Linked DNA regions of Homo sapiens. The protein of the gene in region 1 interacts with the protein of each later gene in a pairwise test. Each region holds a gene or a part of one and is shown in the gene's direction. Other genes may lie near its edges.

Region 1 (5,045 bases):
GTACCACATCTATGTGGCCCTGGAGGAGGAGATTGAGCGCAACAAGGAGAGCCCAGTCTTCGCCCCTGTCTACTTCCCAGAAGAGCTGCACCGCAAGGCTGCCCTGGAGCAGGACCTGGCCTTCTGGTACGGGCCCCGCTGGCAGGAGGTCATCCCCTACACACCAGCCATGCAGCGCTATGTGAAGCGGCTCCACGAGGTGGGGCGCACAGAGCCCGAGCTGCTGGTGGCCCACGCCTACACCCGCTACCTGGGTGACCTGTCTGGGGGCCAGGTGCTCAAAAAGATTGCCCAGAAAGCCCTGGACCTGCCCAGCTCTGGCGAGGGCCTGGCCTTCTTCACCTTCCCCAACATTGCCAGTGCCACCAAGTTCAAGCAGCTCTACCGCTCCCGCATGAACTCCCTGGAGATGACTCCCGCAGTCAGGCAGAGGGTGATAGAAGAGGCCAAGACTGCGTTCCTGCTCAACATCCAGGTGAGGGTCGGGCAGCCTGGGGCAGCCTCTGCCTCCCCCCGTTGTTCCTCCAAGGGACCCTTCTCATTGTAGGGGAGGGTGCTATAGGTCATGGTTAACACAGGGAACCAGAGTTCCAGCACTGCCACTTACTAGCTGGGTGATCTTGGGCAAATGCCTTCATCTCTCTGTACCTCAGTTTCCCTATCTGTAAAATAGGGATAATAATGGTACCTATATCTTAGACTTATAAGGCTTGAGTGAATTTACAGCAGTAAAGTCCCCACAGCAGTGTCTGGCACAGAGGAAGCCCTCAAACATTCACTACTGTCATAATGGGACATGAGAATCAGTTGTAGCTCTCTGTGACAACAGTCTGTGGCAATGTATAAGTTGTGTGTGCACTAGTGTATAGCCAGGTTGGCACTCCCAGGGTTACAGGTGGCCTCTGCCTTCCAGGGACTCTCAGCCTAGCCAGAGAGGTTTACCTCTTTCTACAAGTGTCTCAAATCCAGGGGGAAGGTGGGGTTTGCGCAAAGCCTGGAAGGATGAATTCTTGGGCAGAGGTGGAGGGGTGAGGGGCTCCTTCTAACCAGATGTCATAGAGCCTTCTCTCTCTGCCACCCCCTGGAGGTGCCATGGGGCCTGGGGCTCGGGGTCATGCCCTCCTGGCTCCCTACTCCCAGCCGTGGATTGCAGAAGATTCTGGTCCTGGCCCCTGTTACGGAACAAGGCCTTTCCCTTCCACCCTCCCCCTTCAGAAAATCCAGTCCGTCTTGGAGGAAGAAAATCTGTGTCTTTCAGAGAAGTGTAGGCAAAAGAAAAGGGCCAGGTGCAGTGGCTCGCGCCTGTAATCCCAGCACTTTGGGAAGCCGAGGTGGGCGGATTGCTTGAGCTCAGGAGTTTCAGACCAGCCTGAGCAACATGGTGAGACCCTGTCTCTATCAAAAATAAAAAATAAAAAAAAATTTAAAGGAAAAAAATGTTTTTAAAAGAAAAGGGATTTGGAATCAGAACTGGCTCTCAGGCTCGTGCCTATAATACCAACACTTTGGGAGGCCAAAGCAGGAAAATGGCTTGAGCCCAGGAGTTTGAGACCAGCCCTGGCAACACAGTGAGACCCCATCTCTACAAAAACATGAAAAAATTAGCCAGACATAGTAGCGTGCACCTGTAGTCCCAGCTACTTGGGAGGCTGAGGTGGGAGGATTGCTTGAGCCCAGGAGGTCAAGGCTGCAGTAAGCCATGATTATGCTACTGCACTCCAGCCTGGGCAACGGCAACAGAGCAAGACTCTGTCTCAAAAACCAAAAAAACAAAAACAAAAACAAAAAAAAACGGCTCTTGGCTGGCCGGGCGTGGTGGGTCACGCCTGTAATTCCAGCACTTTGGGAGGCCGAGGCGGGTGGATCACGAAGTCAGGAGATCGAGACCATCCTGACTAACACGGTGAAACCCCATCTCTACTAAAAAAAAGAAAATACAAAAAAAATTAGCTGGGCATGGTGGTGGGCACCTGTAGTCCCAGCTACTCAGGAGGCTGAGGCAGGAGAATGGCGTGAACCCGGGAGGCGGAGCTTGCAGTGAGCAGAGATCGCGCCACTGCACTCCAGCCTGGGAGACAGAGTGAGACTCCGTATTAAAAACAAAAAACAAACAAAAAAAAACGGCTCTTAGTGCCTGACCTCTGGATCAGTCCTTGGGCAAAGCACTTAACCTGTAGGAGCTACAGTTTCCTCATCTGCAAGGCTAACAAATACCATTCAGCACACCTCACCAAGGCTGAATTTCACAAATCTAAACTCAAGAGAAGAAAGCAGCGGCAGAAGAGTGCATGTACTAGGATACCACTTAATATTATTTCAAAACAAGCAACGCAGCCTTTTGCATGGAGACACAGGCTAAGGACATGGGCGGCCACAGTGAACTCTAAATCCAGGATCATTGTTATCGGTTGGGAGGGCAAGAGCAGGCAGGGGAGCCAATTGGGCTTGGAACATCTTATCTCTTAAGGTGGATGAAAGGGATATGAATTTTCTTTCTTTCTTTCTTTCTTTCTCTCTTTCTTTCTTTCTTTCTTTCTTTTTCTTTCTTTTCTCTCTCTCTCTCTCTCTCTCTCCTCTCTCTCTCTCTCTTCTTTCTTCTTTCTTTCTTTCTTTCTTTCTTCTTTCTTTCTTTCTTTCTTCTCCTTCCTTCCTTCCTTCCTTCCTTCCTTCCTTCCTTCCTTCCTTCCTTCCTTCCTTTCTTTCTTTCTTTCTTTCTTTCTTTCTTTCTATCTTTCTTTCTTTCTTTCTTTTCTTTCTTTCTTGCAGAGTCTCGCCCTGTCACCCGGGCTGGAGTGCAATGGGGCGATCTTGGCTCACTGCAACCTCAGCTTCCCAGGTTCAAGCATTTCTCCTGCCTCAGCCTCCCGAGTAGCTGGGATTACAGGCATGCACCACCACGCCCGGCTAATTTTTTGTATCTTTACTAGAGATGGGGTTTCACTATGTTGGCTAGGCTGGTCTCAAACTTCTGACCCGTGATGTGCCCATCTTGGCCTCCCAAAGTGCTGGGATTACAGGGGCGCACCACCGTGTCCGGCCAATATTTTTCTTACCATCTTGTTATTTCCAAAGTATTTCCTAACACAACTTAAGGTCCTACCTTCAGCTGGGACCTGGTAGCATCTCTCACTGAGATAGGCATGTGTGTCTTTTGTCTTTTAGCTCTTTGAGGAGTTGCAGGAGCTGCTGACCCATGACACCAAGGACCAGAGCCCCTCACGGGCACCAGGGCTTCGCCAGCGGGCCAGCAACAAAGTGCAAGGTGAGAGCATCCAGGAAGGGGCACTTCCTCTGGGCTACACATGGAGGGACTTGGCTGTCTGACTGTAGTATCTCTATTCCTCTGTTTTCTGAATGTTTGGTGGTGGTGGGTGTTGTTTCCTGCTGCCCCACCCCACTGCCCCTGTAAGGACAGGTTCTCGCTATATTGCCCAGGCCAGTCTTGAACACCTGACTTCAAGCAATCCTCTTGCCTCTGCCTCCCCACATGCTGCAGTTACAGGCGCGAGCCACCATGCCAGCCTGAATGTTTGTTGTTGTTGTTGTTTGAGATGGAGTCTCACCCAGGCTGGAGTGCAGTGGCGCGATCTCAGCTCACTGCAACCTCTGCCTCCCGGGTTCAAGCAATTATCCTGCCTCAGCCCCCCGAGTAGCTGGGATTACAGGCGCCCACCACCATGCCTGGCTAATTTTTTTTTTGTATGTTTAGTAGAGATGGGGTTTCACCATGTTGGCCAGGCTGGTCTCGAACTCCTGACCTCAGGTGATCCGCCCACCTTGGCCTCCCAAAGTGCTGAGATTACAGGCGTGAGTCACTGTGCCCGGCCACCTGCGTGTTTTTGTATGAGAAGTGGAGTGCAGGCAAAAGGACCTGGGGTCAACCTTCAGCGTGTGGCTCTGGGCAAGCCATGAGACTTCTCCCTACCTCAGTTTCCCCACCCGTAAAATCCAGTGAGGTTCAGCTACTTCTAGCTTATTGGCTCAGAAGTGCACAAGAACCCCTCAGAAATCATGGGAAACTCCTGCCTCCTTAATTTAGACTCCTTTTTAGGCCTTTGGTCCCCTGATGTGGGCCAGGGAGTTGGGGACCTGTATCCAGCTATGAACCCACCACAGGAAGATGTCCCTTCTGAGTCTTGTTGTGTGTGAGCCCCTCCCTCATGTGCCTAAGAACGATCAAGGCTGGCTGTACTGAAACATCTTGGAAACTTCCAAAAAGACCAAAGTGCTCCACAAAATGTACCCTCACTAAGCCTAAAACACTGAGGGAGGGAGTGTGGCTTTGGGATGGGTAGCAATAAAGAGGTAAGGCTTAGCTACCTCCTGGCAGGTTATATTAGGCCTCCCCTCCTGTGCCACCCTAACCTACCTGGCTTGTGGCTTTCTCACTTGTGCCAGACCACACGGACCCCTCTGCTAGGGGTTTGTAACCCCGGAGGGCTTGGCTATTTGGTGGGGTAGGGAGACGTCACCCTAATGAAGCAGTTCTCAAAGTGTGGTACCCTGGCTGTGGGAGGTGGTAATCCTAGTATCCCCTCAACGGGGTCTGTGAGGACAAAGCATTTTTATAACACTACTACTATTTTTTTGGTTTTTTTTTTTTCGTTTGAGACAGTCTTGCTGTCACCCAGGCTGGAGTGCAGTGGCATGATCTCGGCTCACTGCAAGCTCCGCCTCCCAGGTTCACGCCATTCTCCTGCCTCAGCCTCCCGAGTAGCTGGGACTACAGGTGCCCGCCACCATGCCTGGCTAATTTTTTGTATTTTTAGTAGAGACGGGGTTTCACTGTGTTAGCCAGGATGGTCTCGATCTCCTGACCTTGTGATCCGCCCGCCTCGGCCTCCCAAAGTGCTGTAATTACAGGTGTGAGCCACCGCGCCCGGCCTTTTTTTTTTTTTTTTTTTTTTTTTGAGACAGGGTCTCGCTCTTTCACCCAGTCTGGAGTGTAGTGGCACAATCACAGCTCACTGCAGCTTCAACCTCCCAGGTTCAAGGGATTCTCCCACCTCAGCCTCCTGAGTAACTGGGACTATAGGCACGTGCCA
Region 2 (5,045 bases), on another chromosome or scaffold:
GCTGGGCATAGTGGTATGCGCCTGTAGTCCCAGCTACTTGAGAGGCTGAGGTGGGAGGATGGCTCAAGCCTGGGAGGTAGAGGCTGTAGTGAGCTGTTGTCACACCTCTGCACTTAAGCCTGGGCAACAGAGTGAGACCCTGTCTCAAAGAAATAAACAAAAACAAGATTTAAGAAGCTAAGTAAAACTTGGTAGTTGATTTGAAATGAAAAAATCAACACGAATACATGGTTAGATTTTTTTTTTTTCTAGAATAAAACTATTTCCTAGCTTTGTGCACTGAAAGGGCCTAGAAGCAGTAGTAAGTCAATAGCAAATGTTTATCTATAACTCCTAGGTTTTAGTCTTTAAAATGCCATTTTCCACTGAAAAGATCAAGGCTTCTTGGGGAAATGGATGATTGCAAGTCTGGAACCTTGTTTCATAGTAGAACATAAAGAAGCTATCAAAGACTGTTGGAGTTGTACCAAAAGGGTCCAAGAGCCAACCTGAAGGGGACTCCTGCTGCCTCAAAATGGGTACCTTTGAGCCTTAAAAAGAGCAATAACTGCAACAAATTGAAACACATCAAATACATTTTTAAATCCATAAGTTCATAATGATGCCTCTCAAAATAAGAAAAAGTACCAAAAAGCCTGAATAGCCAAAGCAGTCCTAAGCAAAAAGAACAAAGCTGGAGGCATCATATTATCTGACCTTAAATTATACTACAAGGTTATTGTAACCAAAGTAGCATGGTACTGGTATAGAAATAGATGAATAGATCAATGGAAAAGAATAGAGAACCCAGATGATGGGTACAGCGATGCTAGGAAAATTCAATTGCCATATGCAGAAGAATGAAACTGGAACCCTGTCTCTCACCATATACAAAAATTAACTCAGGGTGCATTAAAGACTTAATGTAAGACCTGAAAAATACTGGAAGAAAACTGATGAAACTCTTCTGGACATTGGTCTAGGCAAATAATTCATGACTAAGACCTCAAAAGCAAAAGCAACAAAACCAGAAATAGACAAATGGGACTTAATTATTAAGTAAAAACTTCTGCACAGCAAAAGAAGTAATCAATGGAGCAAACAGCCTGCAGAATGAGGGAAAATATTTGCGACCTCTTTATCCTATAGGAGACTAATAACCAAAACTTACAAGGAAATCAACAACAAAAAACAACCCCATTAAAAATGTGCAAAAGACATGAATAGTCATTTTTCAAAAGAAGACATACAGATGGCCAACAAGCATATGAAAAAAATGCTCAATATGCCTAATCAGAGAAATGCAGATTAAAACCACAATGAAATACCATCTCACACCAGTCAGAATTTTTAGCTGTTACTGAAAAGTTAAAACATAGCAGATGTCTGCGAGATTGTGTAGCAAAAGGAATGTTTATACACTCTTGGAATGTAAATTAGTACAATCACTATGGAAAACAGTATGGAGATTTCTTTTTTTTTTTTCTTTTGAGACGGAGTCTCGCTGTGTTGCCCAGGCTGAAGTGTAGTGGCGCGATCTCGGCTCACTGCAAGCTCTGCCTCCCGGGTTCATGCCCTTCTCCTGCCTCAGCCTCCCGAGTAGCTGGGACTACAGGCGCCTGCCACCACGCCCGGCTAGTTTTTTGTATTTTTAGTAGAGATGGGGTTTCACCGTGTTAGCCAGGATGGTCTCGATCTCCTGACCTTGTGATCCGCCCGCCTCGGCCTCCCAAAGTGCTGGGATTACAGGCGTAAGCCACCGTGCCCGGCCAGTATGGAGATTTCTTAAAGACCTAAAAAAAGAACTACCATTCAGTCTAGCAACCTCACTACTGGGTACCTATCCAAAGGAAAAGAAATCATTATACAAGAAAAGATATCTGAACTCAAGATGTTTATCACAGCATTATTCACAGTAGCAAAGGTAGGGAGTCAACCTAAATGTCCTTCAATGGATGATGAAAGAAAATGTTTGTGTGTGTGTTTTGTATATACATACATAAAATGGAATGCTATTCAACTATTTAAAAAAGCATGTTTTTTCCAGCAACGTGGATGGAGCTGGAGGTCATTTTTTAAAGTGAAATAATTCAGAAACAGTCAAATCTAGCGTGTTCTCACAAGTGGAAGTTAAATAATGTGTACACATTGACATGGAGTGTGGATTAATAGACATTGGAGACTTGGACAGGTGGGAGGGTGGAAGGGGAGTTAGAGATGAGAAATTAATACCTACAATGCACATTATTAAGCTTATGGTTACACTGAAAGCCCAGACCTCACCACTATGCAATATATCACCACTATGCAATACATTTACATCACAAAACTGCACTCATAATCCTTAAATTTATAGGATTTTTTTTTTTTAAATCAACCTGATCACCTTCGGAGGTTGCTACGCCATTAATTCATTATTTTGAAAATCAGGAAATAAAGGCAAAGGATCAAACATTTATCTTGACTTTGTGAATTTTAAGAGGCACCAAGTAGTTGGTGAAAGCTTATTTTTAGCAAGAATCCTGCTAGTAAATGCAGAAGGAATATGGAACTATAAAGTTACTGTTTCATAAACTTTGGTAAAATAATAGAATTAAGTAAAGGTCATCAATGGCTGCTAAAATCATTAAGTGAAAGATTAATGAGGAACTTTATTTTGGATGGATCAGGCTAAATGTAAATCCATTAGTTAATTTTATACCACCAAAATAGGACATTATATAAAAGTGATATTATATGCCTCCCTAAATACAAGCACCACCTACGAAGTATGCTTGCCAAAAAGATTTCATCTGAAACTCATCCAGCTTCTTACCACCAGATACGGGAAATATAGGATAGGTATGTTAAATAAGTTTATAAGGAAGATATTAGCCAAATCCCAAACATGGGAATTCTAAAGAAAAATTACAAATGTCATGGGAGGAAAAGAGTCATGGGGGTGGTAGTGGGGAGGGCAGGTATAATATAGATTCAAAAAGAGTTAAGTGATAAGTAACGTATATTGGACCTGAATTTAAACATAACACTTGTAAAATGATATTGGAGAATATTGAGTAAATTGAGTAATATTGAAGACTTACTGTTAATTTTGTTAGGTGTGATAGTGGTATCATGGTAATGATTTTTTAATATCTGGGTGAAGTAATGTGATTCAGGCAGCAAAATAGAAGGTATGTAGATTTTAATGGTAACTTGGGAAATACAAAAAAAAAGAAGGTATATAGATAAGCAAGAATGACACAGTTTTGATAATTTTTAAAGATAGGTGGGAAGGGTTCGTTAGATTTCTTAGTCTATGTACTTAATTTTTTTTTTAACCTAAAGAGTCTGTCAAACTTTGAGCAAGGCAGTATTTTATTAAACTTTTAAATCTATGTTATATAATTAAATAGTGGTAAATTGTGGTAAATCCTGTTTTTCTGTAGAATATATTGGTTTTCCATTTTGTTGGTGTCCAGTTTGTCTCTAATTGAGTACAATTTTTTTTTTTTTTTTAATTCCCAGTGCTTTGCCAAGTATATTAGAAGTGGCCTTGGGTCTTCAGTAAATTGCACATTTATGTGGACACATTCACACATTAGAATTGTAGATGAGCTCAAATATTAAAAGTTCAGAATGAATATTTGGGCATTTAAAACATTACAGTTTGTATTTTAAGAAGATAAGAATATAATTTATGGATGTGACCTGTGGAAATTAGTCCTCTTATTTTTCTGTTTTGTAGCTTTTTCTGTTTTGTTGGCATATTGATCTCTTGTTTATGTTTTCTTGACACTTTATTTGATTTTCCTTTTATAGGCCAGTACTTAAAAACTATTTTAGCAATAATAAGGGAAAAATGACAAAATTGATGCTACAACATTTTAAGATACTAGTGTGTTCTGTAATCAGTACATTTAAAACTTGGGAATCAAAGAATGTGGTCAGGCCAGGCATGGTGGATGATATCTGTAATCCCAGCACTTTGAGAGGCTGAGACTGACAGATCACTTGAGGTCAGGAGTTCAAGACCAGCCTGGCCAACATGGCGAAACCCAGTCTCTACTGAAAATACAAAAAATTAGCCTCGCGTGGTGGCACACAACTGTAGTCCCAGCTACTCTGGAGGCTGAGGCAGGAGAATCACTTGAACCTGGGAGGCGGAGGTTGCAGTGAGCTGAGATTGCACCACTGTACTCCAGCCTGGGAAACAGAGCAAGACTCAGTCTCAAAAAAAAAAAAAAAAAAGAATGTGGTCAAAATATCTTTAAGTTTCCATCCAATTATATATATGCTGTATAAAAGTACTTTAATTATCTTTCAGGTTGGCAAATAAACAAGATAAAGAAGGAGCTTTAGGAGAAGCTGATGTCATTGAATGTCTATCTCTGGAAAAATTGGTCAATGAGCACAAGTGCCTGTGTCAGATAGTAAGGTTTTTTTTTTTTTTTTAATTTTAATTTTTTGTCCTTTCAAATAGGTTCAGTATAACTTGGTTTTTATAAAAGTGATAGCAATTAAAAGGCAATGTTTTCAAAGAATTTTTTGTAACCTATGAAATCACATTCCCATTTTTCTGTTGATATAACTTAATACCATAATATTTGTTGTCTATTTCATTGTTATTTCCATGAACTATCTTTCCATGATTTCAAGGAGCTTCACATTTGCGTTTTAACATAGCCAACACATCATGGCATGAAATTTGTAAAATGGGAAAGAAAAGTGTAAATACAAAATTTAAACATATGAGAGATTCATAATGAATTTTGAAAAATTATTTTGCTGGGCATGGTAGCTCATGCCTGTAATCCCAGCACTTTGGGAGGTTGAAGGGGGCAGATTGCTTGAGCCCAGGAGTTTGAGACCAACCTGGGCAACATAGTGAGACCCTAGCTCTACAAAAAATACAAAAACTAGCTGGGTGTGGTAGTGTGTTCCTGTAGTCCCAGCTGCTTGAGGGGGCTGAGGTGGGAAGACCACTGGACCCTGGGAGGCTGAGGCTGCAGTGAGTTCTAATTCAGCCACTGCACTCCAGCCTGGCCAACAGAATGAGACACTGCCTCTAAAAAACAAAAAAAGAA

Evidence for each region. The genes of interacting proteins can lie anywhere in the genome.
Region 2: the proteins of HMOX1 (region 1) and ARL13B interact in binary tests that used the Homo sapiens proteins (3 or more experiments, as listed by UniProt).

Annotation. Positions count from the first base shown.
Region 1 is NC_000022.11:35,386,702-35,391,746, forward strand, and holds part of HMOX1 (heme oxygenase 1), read left to right. Parts: coding exon 1-475; intron 476-3,162; coding exon 3,163-3,262; intron 3,263-5,045.
Region 2 is NC_000003.12:94,031,046-94,036,090, forward strand, and holds part of ARL13B (ADP-ribosylation factor-like protein 13B), read left to right. Parts: intron 1-4,285; coding exon 4,286-4,391; exon of another isoform or gene 4,392-4,396; intron 4,397-5,045. UniProt on the Homo sapiens protein: Cilium-specific protein required to control the microtubule-based, ciliary axoneme structure. May act by maintaining the association between IFT subcomplexes A and B. Binds GTP but is not able to hydrolyze fit; the GTPase activity remains unclear.